4 separate regions of the Homo sapiens genome follow, and all the other regions are linked to region 1. The links come from fine-mapping of genetic effects on gene expression. A gene starts in region 1. Each other region holds a variant in brackets. All regions are shown on one strand. Distances are between the middles of the regions. Region 1 holds the start of SMOC2 (SPARC related modular calcium binding 2). Region 2 overlaps SMOC2 (SPARC related modular calcium binding 2). Region 3 overlaps SMOC2 (SPARC related modular calcium binding 2). Region 4 overlaps SMOC2 (SPARC related modular calcium binding 2).

Region 1 (7,617 bases):
ACACATTGAGATAAAGAAGAAATGAGACACTGGGTACACACAGAGATAAAGAAGGAACAGTAGACACCAGGGCCTGCTAGAAAGGTGGGGCAGGGAACAAGGGCTGATAAAACTGCTTATTGGGTGCTATGCTCACTCTCTGCGTCTTTCATACCCCAAACCTCAGAGTCACACAATATGTCCATGTCACAAACCTGCACGTGTGCCCCCGAGTCTAAAATAAAAGCTGAAATTATTTTTTAAAAATTTGCCACAAAGTGCCTGAAAAGTATTATCATAAAAATTGTCCTCAGGCATCTTAAGAAGGAAGAAGAGGCCGGGCGCGGTGGCTCACGCCTGTAATCTCAGCACTTTGGGAGGCCGAGGTGGGCGGATCACGAGGTCAGGAGATGGAGACCATCCTGGCTAACACAGTGAAACCCCGTCTCTACTAAAAATACAAAAAATTAGCTGGGCGTGGTGGTGGGCGCCTGTAGTCCCAGCTACTCGGGAGGCTGAGGCAGGAGAATGGTGTGAACCCGGGAGGGAGAGCTTGCAGTGAGCCGAGATTGCACCACTGCACTCCAGCCTGGGCAACAGAGCAAGACTCCATCTCAAAAAAAAAAAAAAAAAAGAAGAAACTTGTTTAATTATTTTGTTGAGCACAAAGTCCAAATTCTCTGTTACTTAAATATATCAAAATAGGAAGAAAGCCATTGAGTCAGGCCCAAGGATCAAACACACAACTCCACTGTCCACTTTTCAACGTGGTGTGTCAACGCTGGCCTCATCCTGCAGCCGCGGTGACGGTGAGCCTCGGCGGTGCTCTGTTCTGATTTTGTCAACTCTGCCGATGTGGTTTCCTTTCTATATGGCTCACAGGTTTGTGAAGCTGCAGAACTTGGGCTAAAAACCTGGGATTGATGTGGGGATCCTGCATCATTTTTCCGTAGGTTGAAGGGAACAAGTTAAAAGGAAGATGCAAGTCATCAGAATGAACAAGCCAACAAGAGGACAGAGACTCCAGAAACCTGGGGAACTACAGATTCTCGGGTCCAGCCTGGGGGTAGTCTAAAAGGAAAATCACACAGAACTTACCTAAGAAAGTCCAGGTGAACGGTGAAAACTCCTGCTCCCATGATTAAGTAGAAACTAGGAGAAAACATTAATAAGTGACTGGCAGGTGACTGATGATGTGGGGTGATTCTCAGAGTATGAACAGTGACCTGAGTTCAGTCCCAGATGATACTCAGAGTGATGGCAGAGGGGATTTCTGGAAGTCACTGCATCAACAAAGAGATATTTGACTAAACTTATGCTTGGCATATTGAGATGGGAAAATAGCTGACAAAAAGTTTTCTGGCTAAACATGAATTAGCCAGAAATAATAACTAAATTATATCATTTCTATAATGAAAATAAAATCCTTTTGCAGTTTTAGCATAGTAAAATAAATAAAAAGGAAGCCAATACTCATGATAAAGCATTTTGCTAATGGCCTAAGAGGGAAAGTTAGTTTAGAAATGTGAAAACAGCTGGAGTCTTTGGTAATTAGTTTCTCTTGCTGTTCTTTATTGTAACTTTCATCAGTGACAGGCATTTAAATTCTGAATGCATAAGCCACATTTTAGAATGGGCCCTGCATCACTTTTTAATTAAAAAAAAAAACAAAAAAACCTACATTTCCAAGAGAGGGGAACTTCTTCCTGCATCCTAGAGGAACTCTCTGGAAAGTATAGAGCTGATCACTTCCTGTCTTAACTTTGAACTGAGTGAATTACTTTTCTATCCTTTCTAACATGACAGCTCTCTGGCATTCCTGCCAGTAATAACTTTCTTGGAGACTTACAAATAAAAGACAGACATAACTCTTTCCCAGTGTTTTAAATAAATGTATTGTTTTTCTCCATAAAAATGGAACCTGATTATCTCTCCAAACTCCATTTCTAGAATTTTGAGAAACTAAAATTTGGCATTCAGGACACATGAGCTCCTCCAGATTTGAAAGGGGTTTCAAAGGCTCCAAACCTGCCTCATCTGTCAGAGTTTTGGACAAATGCATTTCATTTATCTTCCTAGAGTTCCCAGAGGATTCTGGAGTTGCTACATGAAAGACGTGTTGGGATTCTTGAATACAAGGCACGGAGGGCCAAGGATTTTCTTCTGTTCTCCATATTGCCAGAGGAAGTGACATGGATTTGCCAGTATTGCAGGTTTTAACATCTGCATTCTGTTTATGATTTTGTTGCTTAGGAGATCTGGCTAAGACATTTGGCCCCTTTGACTTTTGTTCCTCATCTGTAGAATGGGAATAATTAAGTCTGCTTCTTGTCTGCCATTCTTGCAGCGGACGATGGTGGATAAATGAACATGCTTTCAAACTTTTGAGTTCTGACGAGCAGTACTCTCAACAAAGTGGAAAGTGAAAAACAGGTTCTTTAGTAGCAAATACTTCTTAAAGGAAGTATGTCAGCTTCGAGTGTAAATTTTATTCTTTGGATAATCTTAGAATTAGTGGTATGTAGTGTTTATTTTCTTTTTACTTTAATTTTCACTGCAGTTCCCTAACAGTGATTCCTATTTACTTAATCATTTGCAGCTGCTCTGCTCACCTGTTTTTCTGGACCCAGGAGCAGTCCCTCAAGAGTTTTATTATAATTTCCTTCTAAGTCCTTAAACCAGGAGGAATGTGTTTAAGTGCTTAATAGATTCCCTGGGCTTTGGAATTTTAAGGAGAATTCTGAGAGTAGCCCTCCTTCAGGAAAAGGTGCATTTCTTTCCCGTCTTTCCGTGGCCCGACGGACATCACTTTCCTGATAAAATTGTGTGGGAAAGGTTGCAATAGCATTGCCTTTGCCTCAGCAGCCAGTCCCAGAACTTGCTGATACAGCCCCCTCCCCCAAAGTTCATAGCCAAAGCAGTGGGCTAGACATCGGATGAAACCTCAGATTTGGATTTTCTGTGTTTTGTGCTTTTCCCAATGCCCCTGACAAGTCAATTGATTCATTGTTCTTGAACAAATCTTCACTCTTCTGGCTTTCTGTGTGAGACAGAATTAGGGCTTTTTCCTGTAAAGTTATAAGCCAAGGCTAAACTATGTCAGCAATGTTGTCTGCAGTGGATATTATCCAGAGTCTGGGTGTGCAAAAATTTCCTGGTTTCCAACGTAGTCTTCGTGGGTGAGTTTACAACCTCCACAAGCCCTGTGCTCCCCGCACAAACACCTGAAATGCTTTGACAGAGCTGTTTAAAAACAGCCACATGTGTCTGTGAATGATGCCCAACCACATGCTCCCCCGACTTGAGAGGATCAAGGCTACAGCCCAGGTCAGACCCCGGATCTTTAGGACCTAAATTCCCCCATCCCTGCAGTGGATAACCCCGTGTAAAGATGCCAAAGGCGGGCTGCCCCCGGCGCAGCCTTTCCTGGACATGTGTTCCCAGCTGCCTTTGCTGGAGCGCCGCTGATCCTTCAGCACCTCTGAGAGGCAATGTTCTGGGCTGGACCAGGGGGCCTTAGAGGGCAGAGGTCAAGGAGAACCCCGGAGTCTGGGGACCGGCCAAGGCTTGGCGTTAACCTTTGTGGATGAAAAGTCCCGCTGGGCTGATCCTGCGCGGACCGGGCCTGGACCCTGGGGCGTGAGGAGGGCGCGGTGCGTCCCGTGGTTGTGCTTGGAAGCCCCCCGAGGGTGCGCGCGCGTGGGTATGAGTGCGTGCGTGTGCCTGGGTGTGCGTGTGTGTAAGTGTGCACGTGTGTGTGTGAGAGTGCGCGCGGGGAAGGAGGCACAGAGACAGCCCGGACAGGCCACTGCGCAGCCCTGGTGGCCCCCGCTCCACCTCTCGCTCCGCAGACCCGCGCCAGGGAGGCCTCTGGGCCGCAGCGGGCACCGGAGCGGAGCGGGCGCGGCAGCGGGCGCTGGGAGGTGGGGCTGGGGGAGGAGAGGGGGAGGGAGAGAGGCGGGCGGGAGGGGAGGATCCGGGAAGCTCCGGGGTATTTGACAGGAGCGAGGGCGGACGCAAAGAACGCGGAGGACCTCTGGGTGCCTGCAGGGGAGCTGCTCCAGCCGGGCCGCCGGGAGCGGTGGGGAGAGCATCGCGGAGCCGCCCCTCCACGCGCCCGCCCAGCCGCGCTCGCCCACTGGGCTCTCCCGGCTGCAGTGCCAGGGCGCAGGACGCGGCCGATCTCCCGCTCCCGCCACCTCCGCCACCATGCTGCTCCCCCAGCTCTGCTGGCTGCCGCTGCTCGCTGGGCTGCTCCCGCCGGTGCCCGCTCAGAAGTTCTCGGCGCTCACGGTAAGCCCGGGCCCGCGGGACCTGGAGCTCAAGTGGTGCCGCCTCTTGCAGCCGGCCGGGTTCGGGTCCCCGCGCCCCGCTCCAGGCCCAGGCGCCTGGGCACGGGGAGCAGGTGGCCCCGGGGGCCGTGGAGCCTTCGCCTGCCGGCGAGGCTGGAGCAGGTAGGACGCAGCGTGCGCGCCTGGGACCCGGCTGGGATGGGCTTCTGGGGACCCTGCCCGCCGGGGTCCTGCTGCGGCTGCGACGGGCTCCTCGGGTTCCACCCGGCTGGGACCCCACCTGCCTCGGGGGCTCTGACCCGGCTGTGAGAGGATCCTGGGGTCCTGCAGACCCCGGACAAGTGGGAGCTGCGGGTGCGCTCGGGTGTCCCGCACTCACTGCTGGGCCTGAGCCTGTGGGGAACCAGGTCTGGGAGCGCCGGCGCCGCCCCGCGGACTGTCCCAAGGCCAAGACAGACCCGCCGGGACTGGGCGCCCACCTCGCCCACGGGGACCCGGCCTGGAGCGTGTTCTCCCGACCGCTTTGGGCTCGTGCGCCGCGCGGATCCCGGGCCTCTCGCCGGCTGAAGGGGCTGCCAGTCGTGGGCCCCACTCGTGGGTCTGACTCTCCCAGAGACCCTCGTAAGTGAGCCGAGGAAGAAGCAGATGAGGTTACAGATGATTCTTCACGGGCCTGAGTGTTATTAGAGAAGCGCTTTCTTCCCTTCTCAGGACAGAACTGGAGGCAGGCGGCGGCTCCCCGCTCTGCGGGGCCTCTGGGTTCTTCCTCGTGGCAGGGATGCTGCGCTCCTGAGCGCGAGGGTCACCGCGGTTGACCGCTGTGTGTTTTTCTTTCTGAGCTGTAACTTCTATGCGACAGCCTTGGCCCGGCCAACGCACGCGGTGTCAAACGAGGAGCTATGTAGAGGGGGCTGAGCCAAGCCCCCGCCGGCCAAGCCAACCCGCGGCGGCCGCTGGGCCAAGGCCGGGTGTCTGCAGCCCCCAGCTCCAGCCGTCCTCCTGGGCTTGCAGGGTTTGCAAACCCATCATTAATGCAATCGCCAGAAACGAAAACATTCCACTTAAATGTGTTTTTGAACAAGTGTTTGAGAAAACACGAAGGTAGTGAGAACGCCTCTGGTGGACAGCCGTCTTTTTTAAGTGGCCGGGGACTTGTCCTAAAGGTGTTTATTGTATTGAAAATAAAGATGGTTGAAATAAGCTGTGGTCGGTTCTGCCTTTCAGCAAATTTAAAACAGTCATGTGGGCATCTTTTCTTTTTCTTTTTCTTTTTCTTCGTCTTCTTTCTTTTGCGTTTTAGCAGTGTGAAGGATGGTTTGTGAGTTCATTGCTCATACCTCAAATTCTTCTGCAGCAGCCCGGGGTCCCTGCCTTGTGTCTCACAAATGACTTGTAGATTAGAAACTGCTAACTGGGGCTCCAAGGAGGTTTTCACACACTCAGGCTTTCCCTGAAGATCCTTTATCTCCCCAGAGGGGGCCCTCAGAGGATACTCACTGGAGGCATTCATGTATATGCACATCTGTACATGCATCTAGACATAAATATACTCACGTATACACTCACAAAAAGACCCCCCACATACTCTTAAAGCACACTAGAGGAGACAGAGAAACTAAGGCCAATTCTCCAAAGGAGATCATAGCATTTTCTTCCAGGACTGTAGCAGCAGGTACCTACAGTTGCCACGGATTTTCAGATTTTCTGAAAGCGCAAAAAGTAGAGACTGCCATCTGCCTGCTGCCCTGTGTGTGTGGGGGGTGGGGTTGGGCCTGTTGGTCCCCCCTGGAAGAGCAGAATCAAGGTAGTTAGTAATTAGAACAGTTTAAGACTCGGCAGGTTTTCTTGTCTTCTCTCCCCTGTCTCATCTAACTATTTACTTGAACCCTCTCACCTTTTGCCCCCTTGAGGTTGCCCCAAGGATGTCTTGGGTTGCGGTGAGACCCGCTGCATGTGGGGTCTCTGTGCAGGAGCTGATACCCCACGTGGGCTTTGCCCTGTTGGCTGCATTCCCCAAGAACAGTTTGCCTGAAATTTACATTTGCAAATAAAATCAGTATCCCGAAGAAAAGATTAAAGCCATAACACATTTTGGCACACTTCTTCTCACCCCACCCCCAGTCTAGAAAATCAAGAAGTAGTTGAGTTACAAAGTAACTGAGGCAGGCCTGAAATCTGACTGGTCGCTGGGAGATGTGAGATGTGCAGGATTTTTCAGTGTGCTCATCTCTTTTCAAATTGCCTTCTGGTTTTTGGAAATCTCTTTTGTCTCCGGAGGCCCTCATTCAAAGAAGGGCCTTCTCTCCCTACGATTTGCATCCTACCTACTTTAATAAATCAAGAGGCAGTATCAGTCCATGCAGTGGGTGGGACCCACAGCTTAGGGTCTTGCTGGATGTGTGACTTCAGGCAAGTTACTTAATTTCATAATCTTCAGTCCCCTTATCTGTAAAATGAGAATACATAATCTCTTTCAAGCATGTGGTGAGGATTAAAGGTAGGGCTTTTAATGCGCCTACTATATGTGAGTTCTCCAGCTAACATTGTTTTGATGGTGCCCATGCCGTGGGTCCGTATAAGAGAGTGCTATCAATTGATACCGTAATTATCAATGCATATAGCGTTGTGGCATTAAGGTGTGTGTGGATTCAACTTTGCAGTATTTTCACCTGCCGCAGATTCTCAGAGCACACCACTTGGCTCTGGGTGTATCTGTGGACTTTGTGGGAGTAGCCATGTGGGACTCTATAGACCAAGGAGGAAAGCTTGCCTCTCTGCCTCCTTCTACTCCATTCATTTCTTCTCATCTAGAAGCAGGGAAATATGTCAGCCTCTCTGGGGCTTTCAGTTTGCCATACCTGGCTTCTCAGGACCACGCATTTGTCTTACTCACCTATGGTGAGTGTGCTTTCTTGGTGGGTCCAGCATTGCTGGTGTGCTCACCTCTGCTACTTTATGTTTAAGATTCAGAGAATCCACTTTGTCTGGTAATGATCTCTCTTCTTTCCACCAAAGTCATTCTTTAGAAATGGCACCATGAGGCCCTCTGTGTCTCTCATTGTGACTTTCTGATGGCTTTGCACAACTTCCTGGTTATTGCTCAGACCCTCTCACCTCCAGTCAACAATGGCATTCTTAAGTGTGTCCAATGCGCTCTTAATTTGGATGCAGGTCAATTTCTTCCTTGAAGAAGGAGGTACATTGAATGCCACACCGTGCCCATTTTCCTTTTTATTTCTGTGAATGACTGAGATGAGGGAATGATCTCTAGTATAAATGGTTTTTATTACACATAATTCTGTTTTCAAAGAGCAAACAGGCGTGATCACAATTACTCAACTTTATC
Region 2 (7,617 bases), 210 kb after region 1:
TTCTTCAGAAGTAGTTTTGAAGTACAGTCGTCCGTCATCAGTAACAAGCATTATTCCAGGTCCTGGGGTGACTGTGACATGGGACTGAGCAGGATTGATTTGCTGCTTCTTGTTTTAGAAGTACATAATGCTTTTTATGTTCAGTTTTTCTTTTTGCACTAAAGACTCCTGCAGCTTTTATATTATGTTAGTCATGTTTCGTGATGAACATCTATTATTTTCTCATTTGAAATATTGTGTTGCTTTATCTCATTTGGGGGAATATGATTAAATTAACAGCCAAAAAAAATCCCCCTGGGTGTGTCCCTATTACCACACCAAATATCCACATAATTCTTTCTTAAAGCTGTTCAGTACTGAGGATTATCTAAAACGCCTTTTCTCCCAGATAATAATATTCTTCTCCATCAAATCCATATTCCTCTCAGAATCTCTGGAGGCCAGTGGAGGACTGGAAATTCATAGAGAGCAGCCCTGGCAGGCAGGTGCCCGAGGTCCTGTGGGTCCCAGCCTCACCTGCCCCGGCGCCTGTCTCGTCGCCCTGGACAAGTTCTCCTGGACGGCTGGCCTGGCAGGGCTTCTGCCCACGTGTTCCCGAGCCTGTGCCCTGGAGGCATTTTCAGCCCTCCAAGTTGTTTTTCTCATTTCCCTTCCTGGTTAGTCCTGCAGCTGGGGAGCTCAGCCTTCTGTAGACCGGGAGGCCCCTCCCAGGGAGCCGAGGCCGGGTGGGCTGGGCAGCTTTGGAAGCACCGCGGCCAGCAGCCTCTGCAGCCTCAGGTCCTCTGCCTTTCTGAGGGGATGTTCGATGAGACTGTTACTTCTTTCTTGGAAAGTAGCATTTGCCCCGTGGCCGTGATGCTTTTTGCTATAGATTTTGATCTCCTTTTTCAGTTGTGTGCAAAGAGACTAACACAGACCTTTTTGCACTCTCAGAACCCCCCTGGTGAAGGCTGCACATCTGTTTTCTGACATGTGTGTTTAATGAAGTGGAAGCCAGCATGACTGTGGAGTCTTGCTATCGGCAGCTCACGTGTGCTTCAAGAGCAATCACACAAAACTCCAGTGTCAAAAAGAAACCTAGGAAAACCAGGGCGTCCCTAACTGCATAAACAGGCTGGTCTCCGAACGACTTGGCTGCTGTCCACACCACGGCCACATGGTCCACGCCAACGTGCCCTTGACCCAGGGGTGGTCCACGCCAACGTGCCCTCGACCCAGGGGTCTGAGAATCACGTGTGGCACTGCCTTTCCCCACGGCACCCTCAGCCTGTCCTGTTGCCTGAGGAGTCCAGAGAGAGCCCTCCTCATCTCAGACAATCCTTCCTCTGAGGGCCACGGGGAAGGCGGGGAAGGGGCCGTCCTCAGTCCCACTCGGCTTTCTGCCTGGGCTCTGCAGCTCTCCGCGTCCTCCACTTACTGAGTGGGCTCCTGAGATTCCCTTTGGCGGGGCCGTCTAAAACTTTTCTTAGTAAAAAATGGAATCTAAATTGGGCAGAAGGTGTGTGGTGTAAACTCCCTTCCTGCTGTGGTGAGGACGGTCCGAGCAGATGTTCTAATGCCCGAGGTGCTCTCCAGGCTCAGAAGTCTCCGTGGGTGTCCCTAGCCCCAGCAGAGCCCCAGGGAGAGGCAGCCTCCCCAGCAGGGAGTCTGAGAGTGCAGCGTGGCTCAGTGGGGACGCTGTCCCTCCAGGGCTGGTGCCTGGCTTCTGTCTTCTATTTTCCCCTCGGTATCTTTCTCTTTCTACTGAACTCTGGAAGGGCTTTCTTTATAAAAATTTAACAAAATGTAAATGGTAACAAGCTCCGTTTGTCACCTCTCCCCTGGATATTTACACACAAATAGACCCAGTTGGAATCGGCAAATTTTGCTCCCTGCTTGTGAAGCTCTTAAACCCGCCGATCTCATCGGGGAAACGAGGGTGGGGCTCCTACCTCTTGCATTTGCTTATTGATCCAGCAAGCATGTATTGGGCAGCTGAGCTGCTTCTCTATGCCAAAAGGGCATCCAGAGAGAGGAGACCTATGTTGTCCATTGTCCATGCCACCCTGGGCATAAGGACACGGGATGCTGCCTGTGTCCAGCTACTGGGGCAGTAGCACCGGGAACGGTCTCAGGAGAAAAGACCCCAGAGAAAGTGGATGGCTTCTTTCAAATGTTATCTTGAATTTGGGGTGGGACGAGTGTCTCAGGCATGGTGTCAGGGAATTCCTAACCGGTGGGAGAGGAGAGTGGTGTTGAGGGAAGGATGGAGGGGAAAGTCACGCTGCAGAATGTTGGGTGCCTGAATTATTCCCTGACCCCAGAATCCATACACAGTCCGCGCTGGGCTCCAAAGCTATGAGCACTAAACCCTGCTGTGGACTGTTCGTGCCAATGCCGTGGTGTGGACAAGTCCCCAGGAGACGGGCGTTGGGGAGCTCCTGCTGTTTGCCCTACTGCCTCCTTTTGCTCTGAGAAGCGAGGTGGCTCTGGACAGGGTGGGGGTGGCGGTGAATCACAGGCCCTGGCCTCGATTGCTGGGATGGCCAGCCTCATGTGCTCTCAGCGTGCACTCCGTATGTCCCGTGTCCCTAAGCACCCGGTGCCTCTGCTGCCACACTCGCTGGATGAGTGACACTGCCCACCTCCGATTGCAGTTCTGAAGATCAGTGAGATACTAATGCCTGTGAATTTTAGTCTCACGTAATAATTCAAACAATAGAGGAATTAATAATAGCTATGGCTCAAAATCAATATATATAATGCAATGTGTTTGTGTTTAAACTAGCTCATTAAGATTAAGGTAGGCCAAAATACTCATTTCCAAACAGTAAAACAACATTTCCCTGTATTTTAGAGGAAAATCTGTTAGGCTTTATGAGTTAATTATGAAAACATACACGTGTTTTTCAGGTTGTCCGGGTGCCAAAAAGCATGAGTTTCTGACCAGCGTTCTGGACGCGCTGTCCACGGACATGGTCCACGCCGCCTCCGACCCCTCCTCCTCGTCAGGCAGGTACGCTGTGTTCGCCGTGGGACAACAAGTTGGCAGGGTCCCAGAATTCTGGGGAATCTGGAAAGTCTGAACATTACATATTGGCAACCTTCTCAGCTTATTTGGACACAGTAGGGCCTTAAAAAGGAGCCTTCTGCAAACACAGGAAGTTGCTTAGCAGGTTTTCTTGTAGCAAGACTAAATCACTGAAAACACTCCCATAGGGGTACATGGCCCTGAGCCGTGACTCCTGGGCCTCTGCGGGGTAGTGGGCTCTGACCCTGGCCCTTTTGGTGCGGAGCAGGGCAGGGGGAGCACTTCCTGCAGAGGGCTTTGTGCTTTGAAATTGCACTTTAGAGTCATCGATTGGATTGTAAATACTTTGAATGACAACGTTTAATCTGAAGTTCTCAAAACGTGATTAGGTTTACTGCAGTAAAATGTACAGCACATACATTTGCTGTCCTAACCACTTTCAGGCATGTGATTCAGTTACATCAAAGACATTCACACTGTTCAAAATAGGATTTTTGGAACCCTGGAGATGTTCCTTGAGTACCTGGTAGGCATTCCCGCACTCCTGGACCTGGGGCCTGGAGCTCGGTGGAGTGGCTTTCGGTGAATTCTCCAACACTCCTCTTTTCCACCCTCTGTAGATCAGCCTCAGGAGAGCAGAAGAACCCCAGGGTTTTACTGCGATGGCATCTCAAGCATCAGATATTCCCCCTGATCTAGCCATAGTTTATCTGTTTCTTTCAAATAAAGTTTTGATGGAGATTTCATCTTTTTTCTTTCTTTAGAATGTTGGCCTTTCTCCCCATAGCCCCTGACACCCAAACCCTTGATTATCTCAGCCACTTTAGGTGATTTTTTTGGTCTCCTGAACTAAAAGCCTCTCCTCTCACTGTCTGTCTGCTAAAGAAGACTTAAGGAAATAAAAAGGCAATACTAACAGAAAATGTCATGAATGTGTAGGAAATTAAATTTAATAGAGCAGGCCGGGCGCAGGGGCTCACGCCTGTAATCCCAACACTTTGGCAGGCCAAGGCAGGTGGATCACCTGAGGTCAGGAGTTCGAGACCAGCCTGGCCAACGTGGTGAAAACCCATCCCTACTAAAAATACAAAACTTAATCCAGCATGGTGGCAGGCACCTGTAATCCCAGCTACTCGGGAGGCTAAGGCAGGAGAATCACTTGAACCTGGGAGGCGGAGATTGCAGTGAGCCAAGACCACACCATTGCACTTCAGCCAGGACAACAAGAGCAAAACTCTGTCTCAAAAAAAAAAAAAAAAAATTTTAATAGAGTCAAACTGTATGTAAATTTCAACTTTACATCTTCTATTCTTGGAAAGATTGTTTTCGCAAACTAAGCTAAACTGCAAACTAAAAATGAAGGCAGTAAATGAATTGCTAACTAAACTAAATTGCAAACTAAACTAAATGCAAACTAAAATTGATGGCAGTAAATGGATTGTTATCTGAAAATCCTCCGAAAGGTTGAGAAATTGGCAATGGTGTCGGAGTTCACGGTGTTCTCATACCTGGGAATGTACAGCTCATCCCAACAGGCAGAATCCAGGGGCCAGCACCTCCAGGAGGGCCA[T/C]CCCATGCGCACACACACACCCTCCATCTCACGGAGAAGGTGCGTGTCTGCCATTTGGTGCACTTTTAAAGATCCGCACCTTCTAGAAGAGTTTATTTATGTATGCCCTAAAATATTGAACCTAACATAATCCAAGGAAAAATATCTAGTCCCAACTTAAAATGTTTTTGATTTGCATCATCTGATATTCCTATGACATGAAGGATGTGTAAAAGAATCACATTTACAGGGCTAGAAAAGCTCAGGGTTCTGGTGTGTCGGGCGGGTATAGCTGCATGTGCTGACCTGCCAGTCCTGTGCACACAGAAGCCAGGATAAGGGGGCTTTTGTCCTTCAAGTGCATCTTTGCTGGGCACAAATTCACTGCATCATTTACAATTTTGAATCCAACCTGAAAAATCTTTGCTAAAAATGTTCTTCTAAATTATTTCTTTAAATTGTTATATCTGATGACCAGTGCTGCAGGCTGAGACACCAGGACCATGAGAACTACAAGCAGGGGTTATGGGTTTGAGGGAAGGACAGTGGCCAGGAAGGAGCAGCCCAGGGGTTTAAGCATCCTGACGGCATCTGTGTTCCTTCCAGGCTCTCAGAACCCGACCCCAGCCATACCCTAGAGGAGCGGGTGGTGCACTGGTACTTCAAACTACTGGATAAAAACTCCAGTGGAGACATCGGCAAAAAGGAAATCAAACCCTTCAAGAGGTTCCTTCGCAAAAAATCAAAGCCCAAAAAATGTGTGAAGAAGTTTGTTGAATACTGTGACGTGAATAATGACAAATCCATCTCCGTACAAGAACTGATGGGCTGCCTGGGCGTGGCGAAAGAGGACGGCAAAGCGGACACCAAGAAACGCCACAGTAAGAGCTTTCCCACCCCCGACCCTGGGCAGTGGTCAGGCCCTGAGGCCTGGGAGGTCTGCTTCTCACAAACACAATTACAGATTGTGTTTATGGCCTGGGAGTGCAAAAAATCAAATATGCTGTTTAATTGTTGGGCGTCTGTTTGCAGAAATAATAATGATAATTGGCGACTCATCACATGCCACTTGCCCAGGAGAGCCCAGGCTCAAAGGGCATGAACTGCGTGTTGGTTTGCAATGAGCCTTTTTACTGTTCAGACCACGGTTGGCTTCCCCCAGAATGGATTGTCTTCTGGTATTTGAGGTGCAAACCTGGGAACCACTGGAATAACCAACCCTGCACCTGAGCTCCAACCAAATGTTAGGAACTCACCAACCCTGCTCCTGAGCTCCAACCAAATGTTAGGAACTCACCAACCCTCTACCTGAGCTCCAACCAAATGTTAGGAACTCACCAACCCTCTACCTGAGCTCCAACCAAATGTTAGGAACTCACCACCCCTGTACCTGAGCTCCAACCAAATGTTAGGAACTCACCAACCCTGTACCTGAGCTCCAACCAGATGTTAGGAACTCACCACCCCTGTACCTGAGCTCCAACCAGATGTTAGGAACTCACCAACCCTGCACCTGAGCTCCAACCAGATGTTAGGAACTCACCAACCCTGCACCTGAGCTCCAACCAGATGTTAGGAACTCACCAACCCTGCACCTGAGCTCCAACCAGATGTTAGGAACTCACCAACCCTGCACCTGAGCTCCAACCAGATGTTAGGAACTCACCAACCCTGCACCTGAGCTCCAACCAGATGTTAGGAACTCACCAACCCTGCTCCTGAGCTCCAACCAAATGTTAGGAACTCACCAACCCTGTACCTGAGCTCCAACCAAATGTTAGGAACTCACCAACCCTGTACCTGAGCTCCAACCAGATGTTAGGAACTCACCAACCCTGCACCTGAGCTCCAACCAGATGTTAGGAACTCACCAACCCTGCACCTGAGCTCCAACCAGATGTTAGGAACTCACCAACCCTGCTCCTGAGCTCCAACCAAATGTTAGGAACTCACCAACCCTCTACCTGAGCTCCAACCAAATGTTAGGAACTCACCAACCCTCTACCTGAGCTCCAACCAAATGTTAGGAACTCACCAACCCTCTACCTGAGCTCCAACCAAATGTTAGGAACTCACCACCCCTGTACCTGAGCTCCAACCAAATGTTAGGAACTCACCACCCCTGTACCTGAGCTCCAACCAAATGTTAGGAACTCACCACCCCTGTACCTGAGCTCCAACCAGATGTTAGGAACTCACCAACCCTGCACCTGAGCTCCAACCAGATGTTAGGAACTCACCAACCCTGCACCTGAGCTCCAACCAGATGTTAGGAACTCACCAACCCTGCACCTGAGCTCCAACCAGATGTTAGGAACTCACCAACCCTGCACCTGAGCTCCAACCAGATGTTAGGAACTCACCAACCCTGCACCTGAGCTCCAACCAGATGTTAGGAACTCACCAACCCTGCACCTGAGCTCCAACCAGATGTTAGGAACTCACCAACCCTGCACCTGAGCTCCAACCAGATGTTAGGAACTCACCAACCCTGCACCTGAGCTCCAACCAGATGTTAGGAACTCACCAACCCTGCACCTGAGCTCCAACCAGATGTTAGGAACTCACCAACCCTGCACCTGAGCTCCAACCAGATGTTAGGAACTCACCAACCCTGCACCTGAGCTCCAACCAGATGTTAGGAACTCACCAACCCTGCACCTGAGCTCCAACCAGATGTTAGGAACTCACCAACCCTGCACCTGAGCTCCAACCAGATGTTAGGAACTCACCAACCCTGCACCTGAGCTCCAACCAGATGTTAGGAACTCACCAACCCTGCACCTGAGCTCCAACCAGATGTTAGGAACTCACCAACCCTGCACCTGAGCTCCAACCAGATGTTAGGAACTCACCAACCCTGCACCTGAGCTCCAACCAGATGTTAGGAACTCACCAACCCTGCACCTGAGCTCCAACTAAACGTTAGGCCAGTTCACAAGCCGTAAAATCATTGCTGTGGCCCAGACCAGTTATTCCAATGGTTATAGCAGTTTTAACAATTGAAAATACTTTTTTTTGTGGGCCTGGCCTACCCAACCGTGACAGGAAGTAAGAG
Region 3 (7,617 bases), 180 kb after region 1:
CACAGGAGCTGGGCCCTGGGGGTCAGGAAGGTGCAGGGGAAGTCTGACGTATCCTGTGAGCCATTCCTTCCTCCACCAGCTCAGGTGAAAACAGCACTGTCTTTCTGTGGGTGTCCTGATGTTGGTGGTTCAGCAGTGGCACCAGTGTGAGGACAGAGGGGGCGGCATGAGGAGCCCCTTGGGGAGCCTGGGCATGGCCCCTCTGTTACTGCCCTGTACCCCAAGCCAGGGTCCTCTCCTGGATCCCCAGAGCTCTTCCGCCTGGCACACAGTCTAAGAAATGGTCTTTATTTTGGTCAAACAGCCTCTCACCCAAGTGTTTCTGGAAGCTCTATGGACCCAGCAGACTTCATGAATGGTCAAGGCCTCTCCCTAAAGGGCATGGCACAGTGCCTCTTCACATCTACAGCCAGCACAGGGGGCCTCTTCACACCTACAGCCAGCACATGGAGCCTCTTCACACCTACAGCCAGCACAGGGCCTCTTCACACCTACAGCCAGCACAGGGCCTCTTCACACCTACAGCCAGCACAGGGGGCCTCTTCACACCTACAGCCAGCACAGGGCCTCTTCACACCTACAGCCAGCACAGGGCCTCTTCTCCTAGAGCCAGCACAGGACCTCTTCACACCTACAGCCAGCACAGGGGGCCTCTTCACACCTACAGCCAGCACAGGACCTCTTCACACCTACAGCCAGCACAGGGGGCCTCTTCACACCTACAGCCAGCACAGGGCCTCTTCACACCTACAGCCAGCACAGGGGGCCTCTTCACACCTACAGCCAGCACAGGGCCTCTTCACACCTACAGCCAGCACAGGGGGCCTCTTCACACCTACAGCCAGCAGGGGGCCTCTTCACACCTACAGCCAGCACAGGGCCTCTTCATACCTACAGCCAGCACATGGAGCCTCTTCACACCTACAGCCAGCACAGGGGGCCTCTTCACACCTACAGCCAGCACAGGGGGCCTCTTCACACCTACAGCCAGCACAGAGCCTCTTCACACCTACAGCCAGCACATGGAGCCTCTTCACACCTACAGCCAGCACAGGGCCTCTTTATACCTACAGCCAGCACAGGGCCTCTTCACACCTACAGCCAGCACAGGGCCTCTTCATACCTACAGCCAGCACAGGACCTCTTCATACCTACAGCCAGCACAGGGCCTCTTCATACCTACAGCCAGCACAGGGCCTCTTTATACCTACAGCCAGCACAGGGCCTCTTCACACCTACAGCCAGCACATGGAGCCTCTTCACACCTACAGCCAGCACAGGGCCTCTTCACACCTACAGCCAGCACAGGGCCTCTTCACACCTACAGCCAGCACAGGGCCTCTTCATACCTACAGCCAGCACAGGGGGCCTCTTCACACCTACAGCCAGCACAGGGGGCCTCTTCACACCTACAGCCAGCACAGGGCCTCTTCACACCTACAGCCAGCACAGGGCCTCTTCACACCTACAGCCAGCACAGGGCCTCTTCACACCTACAGCCAGCACATGGAGCCTCTTCACACCTACAGCCAGCACAGGGCCTCTTCACACCTACAGCCAGCACAGGGCCTCTTCACACCTACAGCCAGCACAGGGCCTCTTCATACCTACAGCCAGCACAGGGCCTCTTCACACCTACAGCCAGCACAGGGCCTCTTCACACCTACAGCCAGCACAGGGGACCTCTTCACACCTACAGCCAGCACAGGGGGCCTCTTCACACCTACAGCCAGCACAGTACCTCTTCACACCTACAGCCAGCACAGGGCCTCTTCACACCTACAGCCAGCACAGGGCCTCTTCATACCTACAGCCAGCACAGGGCCTCTTCACATCTACAGCCAGCACAGGGCCTCTTCATACTTACAGCCGGCACAGGGCCTCTTCACACCTACAGCCAGCACAGGGGGCCTCTTTACATCTACAGCCAGCACAGGGGGCCTCTTCACACCTACAGCCAGCACAGGGCCTCTTCACACCTACAGCCAGCACAGGGCCTCTTTATACCTACAGCCAGCACGGGGCCTCTTCACACCTACAGCCAGCACGGGGCCTTTTCACACCTACAGCCAGCATGGGGCCTCTTCACACCTACAGCCAGCACGGGGCCTCTTCACACCTACAGCCAGCACAGGGCCTCTTCACACCTACAGCCAGCACAGGGGGCCTCTTCACACCTACAGCCAGCACAGGGCCTCTTCACACCTACAGCCAGCACAGGGGGCCTCTTCACACCTACAGCCAGCACAGGGCCTCTTCACACCTACAGCCAGCACACGGCCTCTTCACACCTACAGCCAGCACAGGGTCTCTTCATCTTCATACTTACAGCCGGCACAGGGCCTCTTTACATCTACAGCCAGCACAGGGCCTCTTCATACCTACAGCCAGCACAGGGGGCCTCTTCACACCTACAGCCAGCACAGGGCCTCTTCATACCTACAGCCAGCACAGGGGGCCTCTTCACACCTACAGCCAGCACAGGGCCTCTTCACACCTACAGCCAGCACAGGGGGCCTCTTCATACCTACAGCCAGCACAGGGTCTCTTCACATCTACAGCCAGGAGCATCTTTTTTCTTGGGGCCCCAAGCAATTGCTGGCATAATTATCGTCTTTGACTCATGTAGAAACCTTAGAGGCAACACCTGGATTTTTCAGACACGATTTTAGCACTATTCTAATTTTTTGAAGATTAGTTATGGTTTTCTGAGAGAGCATAAAATGA[A/T]CCTTACCTTGCCCTAAGTGGAGCTTAGGACATTTTCCAAAAGGTAGTTAGATCAGGAGCAACACATTCCTGCCAGGTATCATGTGACATGTAAGGACCTCGGTGTTTACCTTTTCTACAAAGCAGACAGGAGCCGGCCAGGACCTCGCTTGGTGGCCTTTGAGAGCCTCACAAAGGTGACACGAGGTGTCAATATTCTGCCCACTAAAAATGTCTACTTCTGTGATCCCTGCTGTCATATCAAAGACTGAATTTACAGACACGAGTCTTCTAAATTTTAGCTGAGCTGGGAACAAAGCTTCAGGCTTTAGAAACATACTACTGTAATTCTGGGGATGTGAGTAGTTAGGTGAGCTATCTGCACTCTGTGTCCATACAGGCTCACGCCAGAACCAGCTGCTCAGGGCACAGGCTCAGACTCTCCATGACCCATGAGGCTGGGACAAGGACTGGGTGTTGAGGAGGCTGGGATGCGAGGCTGTCTGTGAGAGAGGATTTTTAACCTGGCATTCTGCTTTTGAGAGCTGTCTGGTGGCATGATACCTAAAGAACATCAACTCAGCCTCATGGGTAGGGCTGGGGAGTCCCAGATATGGCAAGAGACCGTTCCACATGGCACCACTTGGAAGAGAGAGCTGAATCTACATTATTTTATTTTTTGACCACTAAGTTGGATGTCTAAATATGAAATTTGCCCATGAATAAGATTAGTAACACTTTTGAAGGAAATTGCAGTTTTTAGGAAGCGTAACAGTGAAATGGACCATTAAATCAGTTTTATTGAGAAAAGACTGCTGCAAATAAAAACTCAGAAAAACCACACATATAATTGCCATCCCAGAGGCATCATAAGACAGGAAGAGCAGGGACAAGGGGTGCCGAGGAGTCAAGCGGTTGGGAAAAGGTGGTTTTCAAGAACCGGTGTCTGTGGAGCATCCCGAGATGCCGCTGCACTGCGGGGGGGTTGCAGGGAGCTCCTCCAGCAGCTGAGGGAGCCCACGCAGGTGCAGGGACACAGGTGAAGTGAGCGTTTCACTCAGCGCTTGCCTTTTCTCCTGGGAAAGAAAGTGGACAGGATGCACCCTGCAGAGGGCACCGGAGAGATGAGAACTAAGAAGGAGCGATATGGCTACTCTTGCAGCAAGGCCAGCAGAATTCTCAGTGGGATTTTATTACAATATTTCTTTTGGCTGATATTTTGTCTTCATGTTTGAGAGTAAGGAGACATTGGAGGTTTGGGGGAATGTGGGAATTCATCATTCTCAAAAAAACAAGAACAGGAATAGAGAAATTAAATAAACAAAGGCGTTTTATTTTCCTCAACATGTAGAGGAAAGACTAACAAATGTCTAATTATGTACAGGAGGGTGCTGGGCGCTTTTTCTGTTTATTAATTGATACTTCAACAGCTGAGTGTGAATAACTGAGCAGGGTGGCTGTTTCTCACCGACGTGGCTGAGCAGGAGCTTTTCTCACACCCAAGGACGGGTCTCCCAGGGGCCCAGGGCACTGCATTCGTGGACTCTGAAGACGGGGCAGGAAGCTGGAGCTATAGTTTCTCCCATGACCTTTCAAGCAAAAGTTTAGGACTCTGATGGGCCAGGGGCACTCCACTCTTGTCCCGCACTCACATCCGCTTGGACAAGTCCTGTCTCTGCTCCAAGCTCTCTTGCATCTCGCTGGCTGCCCCACTGCTTCCTCCAGGCGAGTTTCCAAATAGACTGTAAGTAGATTCTGATCCCCATCCATGCAGCAAGAAGAGGTGTCTGGAAACCCCAGATCTGGCCTGTATTGCTTCCCATCATCAGGGTCTCCTGGCTCCAGATTAAATGTGAACTGCTTGTTGTGACCGATGGGGCCCCTCCTGGCCTTACCCCAGTGCATTTTCTGTTTTCTTCTCTCCGCCATGCATGGGACTGTATCTCGCCTGATTGCATGGCCTACTTGGAGAGGCGGGGGTCGCGTCCAGCGCCTCGCTGAGGGGCCATGCCTCCAGCACACAGGACACAGGTCATTTCCCTGAGAGGCATGCTGACATGGATTGCCAGGTTTATGGGGTCTGCCAGGGATAAAATAATCTGAGATTTTTAACCCACCCATTTATTTCCCATCCAAGAAAACGGATCTGTCCTATGGCGTGTTATTAGCCGCAAGGCTGCCTGCATGGGAGTGGCCTGGACCATCGCCCCAGGGCCCAGTGCTCCAACAGGACCCTCGGTTTATTGCTGTGCTATCACCACGATGAAATAATTAATTTTTAAACGCGAGGCCTCCGTGCTCCATTTTGCACTGAGCCCTACAAACAAGCCGATCATGATTAGTAACAACACACAGCTTGCAATTCACTGGGCATCCAATGGCAAAGAGCCAGCGTAGTGGCATTAAGAGGCGAGTCAAGGAGAGGCAGGTAGTGGCATTAAGAGGAGAGTGGAGGAGAGGCAGGTAGTGGCATTAAGAGGAGAGTGGAGGAAAGGCGGGTAGTGGCATTAGGAGAGTGGAGGAGAGGCGGGTAGTGGCATTAGGAGAGTGGAGGAGAGGCGGGTAGTGGCATTAGGAGAGTGGAGGAGAGGCGGGTAGTGGCATTAAAAGGAGAGTCGAGGAGAGGTGGGTAGTGGCATTAAAACGAGGGTCGAGAGGTGGGTAGTGGCATTAAGAGGAGAGTTGAGGAGAGGCAGGTAGTGGCATTAAGAGGCGAGTCAAGGAGAGGTGGTAAAAGAGTTAAGACAAGGCCAGGGAATGACGATGGAAGGGCTAGGAATGTCCCGCATGGGGTGAGCACAGATGCAGACAGGAAGACGGTGCGCTCAGGACATCAGTAGCCCAGCTTAGGCGATGGGGAAGGTGACATCGTCTCCTGCAGGGACTATGGGCTCTCGACGCAGCAGGCACACGGGCATCCGGTCTGGGAGAGACAGCGATGGCAGGAAAGCTGGAGTGCCCTTCAGTCACTACTCCACAGACTCCACTAAACTGGGAACCAATTTCTGAAATTATGGGCTGCATTTTATTTGTTTATTCAATATAATAAGACAATAAATATCTTAATCTTAAAATACCCAGGAATTTGCTAGAATATCAGAGAACCAAGTGTTAGATGACCTATGACCTGACACAAAATGACCCTCAGCACGGATCGGAGAACTTGAGTTCTGAGCAGCGCCGGTGACCGCAACAGCACATTGTTGAGTTATTTTAGAAGCAATGTGGCTTGTTTTTGTTTATGGTTTCCTTTAGAGCCAGATTTTTAAAGATAAAGTGCCATTTAAAAAATTCCCAAAGACAGCAGGGAGCATTCTGAACGACAACAGGACAGTCAGCTCTGGCCAGTTTAGCCTGCGTTACTTTGAAAGTTATGATTATGCAGAAGAGAGATGGAATAAAGTTTAGATTTACGTTCATCATGAAAAAGGCATCTGCCAGACAAATTAATAGTGTAAGCAATATTTCAGAGACAATTTAAATAACTTGAGAACAAACTGGTCTCCAACACTATCAAATATATTAAATTAATTTCTAAACAATTGTTATTCTATTGCAAATAATTCCTAACTCTATTAAAGCAGTTTATCCTAAATGATTAACTACTTTAAAAGCCTTCCAAGTACGGTATACACTTAAAAATAACAAGTATGCTTTTAACTGGCCTACAGTGGTTAGTTTAGACTTCCCTCCTATCTTTTCTGAATTGATTGAGGCTCTACCATAATCAAATTAAAACCTCCTATAACGCAAGTCTCACTTACTTCCCGTTTGCCGCTGACTCAGGCAGGAAACCACCGTGGTACTCCTGAAAGCGCCCTTCTTTCTCAGAGGCTGTGCACTTCAGGTGAGACCACAGTGAGGCCAGTCCGGACAGAGGGGACTCTGCCTGGAGTCGGAAGGTCTCCACAGCCAGCTGTCCCTTGTGTAGCCAGTGCCTGCCATGGTTAGAAAGCCCACAGCTTCAGTTTACACGCTCTGTGTCTTGTGGCCCTTTTACTCTACGTACCAGTCATGGTCACTGTGCTCCGGCAGGCCGTTGTCCAGCTCGCTCTCAAGGTTCCGGACACACGGGCTCTGTGCTCCCTGAGGTTGGCAGTCACTGCCTTCAGGTCTTCAGATCCCCTGCACCAGGTTGCTCAGGCATGAAACACACAGCCCTACCTGCGTGTAATATTTGCCTGTGGTCTCTCCCCTCCACCAAACCAAGCAATTCAGATGCCTTGAGCGTTCTTTAGCTATCGGTATTTCATCTCTTCACTGAATCATGTTTATTGTTTTCACTTGGAAGCGCTTATCTTCCTGATTCCCCTATGTCTTTAAACCCAACGCTGGCAGAATACTAAGACTGCATGGTGCCTTCTCTGCTTTACCTTCTCATGAGAATTACAAATCCCTTTGTTTTCTAATTTTGCAAGCAAGTATTTATTACATGCCTGTTGCATAGGTGGTGCTTGCCAATGTTCTGGGAGATGCAAGTCAATAGAGATCCAGCTCCCGTACTCTGGAGCTGAGACCTGGCTGTGAGGATTGCAGGTTTATGACCCTGGGATGAATGCTCTTGAACAAGAAAGCCACCTTATTTCAGTTTGAAATATTGGGAAAATGGAGACTGATATATAGGAAAATTTTCCCTATGTCTAAAAATATTATGGTAGAATTCTTGTAAACTCTTTTCCAGACTTGTACCAATGTCAAGAACATTTCACCCTCACCCTAGATAGCACCCTTTGAGTCAGGGAACCGCAGACAGCATGGGCAGCACTGACACTGTGCGGAGAGAGGAGTGAACGTGAGAAATCACTTCTGCAGGAGAAATTAATTCCAAGGGGGATCAAGACAGGGAAAATCCAATTATCCAGGTTGGATATTGGCCAGAGCACTGCGGTTATTACTTCTAGAATAAAGGCA
Region 4 (7,617 bases), 170 kb after region 1:
CTGGGCACCAGGCAAAATAATCAATATTAGGCAGTATCTGATAAGCCACAGCCAGCTTCACCATTCCTCATCTCCCAGTGATTCTGCCATTATTGAGTAACCAGGTCGCATTTCTATTTAAATGCCCTCTGTTCCCTCAGCGCAATTTTCTTATTAATTTTCTGAAATAAGCAGCCCCAGGGAGATACTTCATAGTTTTGATTTATACCTGGGTTGGCAATTAAGATGTTTGTTTTCTTTAATCATCCTCTAAATTTCCTGATGGGGAAGAAACATTTAATAATCCAGTAACAGTAAGAAGCTATAAACATAAATTGCATCGTCTTTGATATGTGACCTCTCTTATCCTCATGTCACCATGCATGAGAATTAAAAGGCGTTAGTTTTGTGGCAGACTCATCCCAAGGACCACAAGTACATGCCACTCTGCCCAGATGAGGCAGGAGCAGCTTGCTCTGGTGCAGTTTCTAGTTGGACCCATCACTTAGAAGGAGATATGAGGAGGGGCAGAGGCTTCAGCCCTTCCTAGTGCCCCTGACTTTTGTGTCAAAATTGGCATCTTCGTCATTGTTTGCAGATCCCGGAAGGAGGGGTCCAGGCACCTGTCATGAGTGCAGGCCCCCATGAATGGTAGAGTCCAGGTGGGAGCCGAGGGGCAAGTTTCCCCTCAGCCACTAACAGTAGTGAGGAGAGAATGGGAAGGGGCCATCAGACTGAGCTGAGTCAGGCTGATGGCCAGATTCTGCATTCATGCCCAGAACAGAGAGGCTGATGAAGCCTTTGTCTGTCTGCCATCCAACTGCTGGCTGTTCCTACCTCACATCTGGGCAGCCTCTGTTCCTGGACCCCAGAGCATGTCTCTCAATGAGGTGTGTAGCCTCTGTTCCCCAACCCCAGAGCGTGTCTTTCAGTGGGGTGTGCAGGGGATCATGTGGGCATAGGACTGCATTTCTCCCTGGCAGAGAACCTGGTATCTGATGGGCAATGAGAGAAGAGACGTTTGTGTTTTTCCTTATACAAATAAGTTAAAATAAACCTATTGAAAAGAATGGTGATGGATGACAAAGCTGAAATTAACGGACTTATTTCTCCTCTTTCTCCTCTCTTGAGATTGTCAATTCTGCAAGTCATGGGCATTTCACACTACTCATTAAAACAAGCAGAATACTGTCATGTAAATATATATTTTTATATTAGCATCAGTGATAGGATTTGCAACATACCTCTATCCCAAATGTGGAACAAAACCGAAATGCCCGTCCAGGTGGCTGGCTTCCTGATTGCTTCGAAGCTAGGAGATTTGGAATGAGGGTAAGAAATGATCTAGTCTCGTGCCACCCATGTGAAGGATACAGGTACTGATCCTGAAGGGCTTCAGGGGCACAACAGAGTTCATGTTAACACTTCCTTTTTCTAACACTACAGAGCAGTCCAGGGCTCTAAGGAGGTGTGCCCTCTGATACTCGGAGAAGCAAGATGGCCCCTAAGGGCTGGAACTCTATCCTCAGAGTCTACGTCATCCATTCTGAGCTGGGACATTCGCCTGGCTTTTGGCAGCTCCCCCTTCATAAGCCCTCGGGCAGGAAGGGTCCATTCTAATGTAGGTCTCAATTCGGCCCCTGAGACACTGACCCGGAGCTTGAAGTGAAGATCGTTCAGCCCTCAGAGTGCCCTAGTTCTACAAATTTAACACGCATAAGTAAAAATAAGAGCTTCCTAATCCCTCAGGAAGCCAGCTTCCTGTACACATCATCTCTGGGTGAATGTTTTACTTCTCACCTGCTGGCCGCAGCAGCAGCTGCATTAGGAGACACCTGGCTGGGTAACAGGTCCTTTACTGAGTTCGCCTTTCTTGTGACCTCTTGGAGCTGACCCCCACCCCCACATTTTCAAAGAATATGAGTTAATGGCTTTCAGTTAGAATGTGATAGCTTAACTGTTTGCCAGAGTGTGTCAGAGACTTTAATTTCAAAAACAATATTTCAAAAAGATATATTAAGTTTGTCTGACTGGGGTGGCAGGTTTTCTGGTATCAAAGAGGCTATTGAGGGCCAAGGGTGGCAGGAATGTGTGGTTCCTGACTCTTATGACAGCTGGATGGGGTCCTCTCACTGGGACTGCTGGACTCTCTGGGGCCTCTGTTAGAACACTTTAAATATGTCCCTTTAGAGAGAAATTTCATTTTATTTTCTATGGCTGAAAAGCATGTAAGCAATGAAAAAAATAGAACCTAAAGTGATCTCTGTGAAGTAAATAGGATCTTGTAGCCCTTTCTTTAAGAATGAAAAAAGAAAATAGGGCAGAGGGAGAGGATGAGAACTGGCGGAACGCTGGCCTCCTGACAACCTCAGGGCTCCGGGCCGGACCCCCTCCCGCTGGCCTCCTGCTTGTCTTCTTCATTTTCCAAGGAGTCTTTCTGGAGCCCCAAGACTGCACCTGTGCCCCATGATGGTGTTGGCGGGCACTGCGTCTCCCAGTGTGTCACTTGCCAGGGCCTGAGGAGGCCGCCACGAAGGATTCCACGTGCCTGACACTCATGGATGGGAGGGGCAGGGGGCTGGGGAGCCGCCATGCAGCATGAGGTCAGCTGAGTGGAGGGGAAGCGAGGAAAGTTGGTGTGGGCTGTCTGGGGTCCTGCGAGTCCACAGAAAGGGGCGGTGGGTGTGCTGACCCAGGAATCTCCCATCTCCCGGGAACGCACCTCCCCGGCGTCTCCTTCATGCTGGTGAGAAGCCCCACTTCTTGGTGAAAGCCACAGTGAAGGATTTCTGTGTGCGGAAGATTGTCCTCCTTGGGGGTGGGGGCTCCGGGAGGCAGGTTCTCATGGTGGCCCGCACTCTGTTTAAATGTCCACCTCCTCTACTGGATGAGGCTGGTGGTCTGCGTGGCAGGGGTCTCCTCCTTGCCCTACACCCAGGACAAGGATAAAACCCAGGCAAAGCAGGCCTTGGTCAAGGGCTGCTGAATGGCATGCATATGGCAGTGTTTATGAGCTGTTTACCGGATTTGAATCTGACACCCTTAGGGACAGGCACCCTGGTTCCCACTGCCAATTCAGTAGTACCACAGAGCCACTTGCTCCCATGAGCTCTGCAACCGCAGCAGCCAGGGCACCTGCCCTCTTGGATGTCAGCCCTGTCTGTTCAGGACTTAACCTGCAGTTTGTCATTGATGCTAAGTGGGACCAGAGAGTCGTTTTTTTTTTTTTAACACTGAGGCAGACTTTCGTAGCTTCACGAGGTGGATTGGAAATGAGTTGGCCTTTGGTGCTACAGGAATCTAAATCCTGAAGTCCTTTGCATCCTTTCCTTGGGCGGGGTGGGGGTAGTGGTCACACCCTCTGTCCTCGTGCACACACTCCTGCTCTGACGAAACAACCCAAGTGCTTCCTCCATCCAACCCTGCAACGGGAGGAGGGGGAGGTGTGGGCGCTGCTCCATCCAACCCTGCAACGGGAGGAGGGGGAGGTGTGGGTGCTTGGCAGCTGCTAGATGAGATTCATTTCAGAGACGGGATGGAGAGACGGCCCTGCTGTGTGATTGAAGTCACAGTGTGCTTCTTCCTACTGACTGCAAGCAATAGCTTTCTATGCCAAATATCCACAAAGGTGACAGAAAGGAGTGAGGAGGTCATGGGTGTCATAGCATCAGAGCCACAGGTCACGGTGTATGCTAGGGTAGGACACTCCAGAAATGGAAGACAAACCACAGCTGGTCTCAAGCCCGTTGTTTTCTCTCTCCTTCCCCCGCCTTCCCCCCGCCCATAGGTACGAGCAGCCGAAATGTGACAACACGGCCAGGGCCCACCCAGCCAAAGCCCGGGACCTGTACAAGGGCCGCCAGCTACAAGGTGAGCAGCACCCGCGAGTGTGGCCCGAATCCACAGGCCCCACCATGCAGTTTCTTGCAAATTTGGAATGAAAAAGACTTTATCTGACTCTGTTTCCCAGGGGGCCTGTCTGACTCTGAGGCCTCCTACCTCCTTGCAGAGGGCCCTGAGTCCAGGCAGGGAGACAGGGGGCCAGGAGCCCACACGGGGAGCACCTGGGGGGCTTCCTCCCTGCTGCTGTGTATGGAAGGTCAGACATGGAAGAGAAAGAAAGGGCCCCTCACAAATCAGATCAGCACACAGCACCCTAACCTCTCTAGATGCTCCTGAACCCCACAGCCCAAAGAACCCTTTATTCATTCTACCTACATTTCACTGTCACTTTCTGACATTCCTTTTTCACTGAATCAACAGTTCATGAAGCTAAAGTTTAGGTTTTAAGAAAACATGAGTTGAATGTATGTATTGAGTTTAATTACAAAGAAATATTGTAATTAAACAGAGGTGAATTAAAATTTATAATAATTGAAAAATGCAGTCACAAAAAGACGTCATGGGGTGAATTTGATATATCATTAAGAAGCTTCAAAGCTACTTGCCATTTGTTTCATTTTGATCTTTTTTTCTCTAAATATCTCCAGATTGTGTATGTTTAACCAACATCTCAGAGACATGAAAATCACACTACAGCGTACTTTGTTTAGAGTACGTGCTTGATCTTGTCTCATACAGAAAC[T/C]GGATGAATTCCGGATGAGTAAACTTTTGTGCTTCCTGTACTATTTGTACTGTCATTGGTAGAAAGGTTTTAAATTGTAAAAAGTAAAGATGTTCGGCTTATAAATGAGGACAGGGTAGAGCAGAATGTCCACAGTCTATACATGTTTCATTGCTACGTGTTCATAGCGATTCCACAACATGAGTAACGAGAATGGTTGACACAGGGAAGCAGAGGGCGGAATGTGGTTCCGGGGACACACAGCACAGTTATTCTGCCAGCTCTTGGTAAACACCGTGCAGCTCACTGGGCTGGCTTGTTAGGAACTGTCTTTGTCTTAGTTCTTCATGGTTTCCCAGCCGTGTACCTCCTCAGTGTCTTCCTTGTGAGGCAGGTTTGAGGAATCTGTTGGTTCTAGTAATTTTTTTTTAATGAGAGTATGGTCCTTGTGTGAGCAATCAACTTGCTTTCTGTTGAATGAATCAGCTTCTTTCTGGATCTCGCAGGTGAGGGTGGGGGAAGAGATCACGATGGTGCAAACACACCCGTCCCTGTGCATGCCTAGTGAAGGGTGTTTTGCCTTTGACCCCGTGTCTGCAGGCTGTGCTCAGCTGCTGGCTGAATTCCATCCCCCTGATGGCCCTGTCAGGAGGGAGTTCTCCTCCTCCATTATCTGGTGTCATCTCTTGTCTCTGAAGTCCGATTTTAATATTGGTGGGCAAGATGTTTCCTTAAAAGACATAATGAGCTTCTCACATGCTTGCTGCATGGAAAGCCCTCAATAAATGTTTCCTGGTTTTGGTTGGTCTTGACCTTGTCACGTGCACTTCAATCTGTCTTTTGCCCCTAGTGTACTTCTTGAAGAGTCCAAGATTCTTAACTTATTTTTTTTTTCGATAGCACAAAGTTGCATCACTTCTAAGCCAAGCTGCACTGTGGTCTTCACACAGGTGATACGAGTGCAATTTATGGAAGTCAGTTTCGCTTCTCATTGGTAAAAGGGACCGTGACAGAGGCTGGCTTCTGCTGCCTCTCAGGAGTGCACGTGGCAGGAAGACCTTTTCCTGGTGGAATCTAATCTGTTACACTCTAGACCCAGACTATTGATTTAAAGATGACACAGTCATTTGTCCAGTGAGAACAACTGGTCCTTGATATTGAGAAACATGATGTCATTGTCTTCTCTGAGTGTCAGAGGTGCCATTTGGAGATACAGCATCCCACACTGTGAGGATGGGCACGTCAGAAACCATGCTCCTCTCTGCTAAAACAGGAGGAGAAGGATGGTTAGATGCTCACAATGAAGACGGCGTTTCCTTGCCCACACCTCAGACGAAAACCAGATTGCTGAGGCATCAAAGCCACGTGACGCAAACTGTGCAAAGGTCAGCTTGTGCTGTTGCCATAGATGTTTGGGAGTGCACTGTTCATGACCACTTAATTATTTTGATTATTTGGAGATAATTATCCTTATTAGGAAAAAACAAGTAGGTCTTAAAATAGCTGCAGGATAGAGGCTGTTCCTGGTAGAGAGGAGAAACCTATTTCCAAAATAACACAGCAGCCTTTGAGTAGGAAGATCCTTCAGGTCCCATGCAGGCTGATGTATTTTATTCTTAAAAGGTACCGTTTCCTTTTGAAGTTGCTTTTCTAAGGTTTTGCCAATGTAGGTCCTCTATTTTCCATGTAAAGCTGATAATATTTTCACACAAAATTCACTTGTTTGGGGTGAGCAGTTGATTTGTCACCAAATACTTATTCACATCTTATGTAGGACAGTTAGCAGGTGTTTGGCAGCAAACGATCATTGAGTCTTTGGAGGCCATCATTTTATTATATGGCACAAGAGATCTAGGTCTGGCTTAAGGGGCTACATAGTGACGACTGGGTCACCGTTTTGGCTTTTGAAGGTTCTTCTTTCATTGTGTAGGTTTCCTCCTGGGACTATCACATCCTGTGTAGCAGAAATTCTAAAAAGAGGCACAAAACCACACCTTCTTAAACCACACCTTCCTAAACCAGATCTTCTTAAACCAGCCCTTCCTAAACCACACCTTCTTCTTGGACAGGTTCACCTCACTTTATTTTGCCCTGGCATCTCTGATCACACTCTGGTTGGTGTTTTAAATAACAGGGTTACTCTGTCTCTCCAGCCTCCCCAGCCCCCTGACATCCTCCCAGGTCCTCATGTGAGGCTGGAGAACCAGGCACTTGCATTGAGCTGTGGCTCCTGTGTCGGGGCCGTGGTGTGTCTGTTGGGCCCTATGTGGCTCCCGTGTCGGGCCTGGCTGTGGCTCCCATGTCTGGCCCTGCTCTGGTTCCCATGTCCGGGACCCACCGTGGCTCCCGTGTCGGGCCTGGCTGTGGCTCCCATGTCTGGCCCTGCTCTGGTTCCCATGTCCGGGACCCACCGTGGCTCCCGTGTCGGGCCTGGCCGTGGCTCCCATGTCTGGCCCTGCTCTGGTTCTCATGTCCGGGACCCACCGTGGCTCCCGTGTCGGGCCTGGCCGTGGCTCCCATGTCTGGCCCTGCACTGGTTCTCATGTCCGGGACCCACCGTGGCTCCCGTGTCGGGCCTGGCCGTGGCTCCCATGTCTGGCCCTGCTCTGGTTCCCATGTCCGGGACCCACTGTGGCTCCCGTGTCGGGCCTGGCCGTGGCTCCCATGTCTGGCCCTGCTCTGGTTCCCATGTCCGGGACCCACCGTGGCTCCCGTGTCGGGCCTGGCTGTGGCTCCCATGTCTGGCCCTGCTCTGGTTCCCATGTCCGGGACCCACCGTGGCTCCCGTGTCGGGCCTGGCTGTGGCTCCCATGTCAGGCCCTGATGTGGCTCCCGTGTCTGAGCCTTGCTGGAATTCTTCCCTCTGCTTGAGCTGCATCTCTCTTAGCTCCTGTGCCTCCCACACATCCTTCAGGACGGCTTCCTCAGGATGCCCAGGCGGCCGGCCACTCACATGCACCTGTCCAGCTTGTTCCCACCTGGTGGGGCACAGCGTGTGGTGTGGGTGTGGACTCTGCCCCGTGCCTCACAGGGTCCCTGGGGAGGTGGAGACTGCACCTCCATGTTCCCGGCAT

What was found. PIP is the estimated chance that this variant, and not a neighbour inherited with it, causes the effect. A credible set is the group of variants that fine-mapping cannot tell apart.
Region 2: its variant is the best candidate, but not a certain one, in a credible set for the expression of SMOC2 in aorta (GTEx, PIP 0.82).
Region 3: its variant is the best candidate, but not a certain one, in a credible set for the expression of SMOC2 in putamen (GTEx, PIP 0.82).
Region 4: its variant is the best candidate, but not a certain one, in a credible set for the expression of SMOC2 in substantia nigra (GTEx, PIP 0.67).

The regions. Positions count from the first base shown.
Region 1 is chr6:168,437,183-168,444,799 of GRCh38, forward strand. SMOC2 (SPARC related modular calcium binding 2) reads left to right here and starts at 4,002. Exons shown (of 13, transcript NM_001166412.2): 1 at 4,002-4,272. The coding sequence starts at 4,189.
Region 2 is chr6:168,647,789-168,655,405 of GRCh38, forward strand. It overlaps SMOC2 (SPARC related modular calcium binding 2), which reads left to right. Exons shown (of 13, transcript NM_001166412.2): 10 at 2,893-2,995; 11 at 5,166-5,440. Among named protein-coding and RNA genes, the nearest start is that of SMOC2, 210 kb to the left of the region's middle. The variant T/C (reference allele first, on the strand shown) is at 4,581.
Region 3 is chr6:168,613,208-168,620,824 of GRCh38, forward strand. All of the region lies in intron 9 of SMOC2 (SPARC related modular calcium binding 2), which reads left to right. Among named protein-coding and RNA genes, the nearest start is that of SMOC2, 180 kb to the left of the region's middle. The variant A/T (reference allele first, on the strand shown) is at 2,728.
Region 4 is chr6:168,604,391-168,612,007 of GRCh38, forward strand. SMOC2 (SPARC related modular calcium binding 2) reads left to right here. Exons shown (of 13, transcript NM_001166412.2): 9 at 3,767-3,849. Among named protein-coding and RNA genes, the nearest start is that of SMOC2, 170 kb to the left of the region's middle. RefSeq lists an enhancer at 2,198-2,734. The variant T/C (reference allele first, on the strand shown) is at 4,565.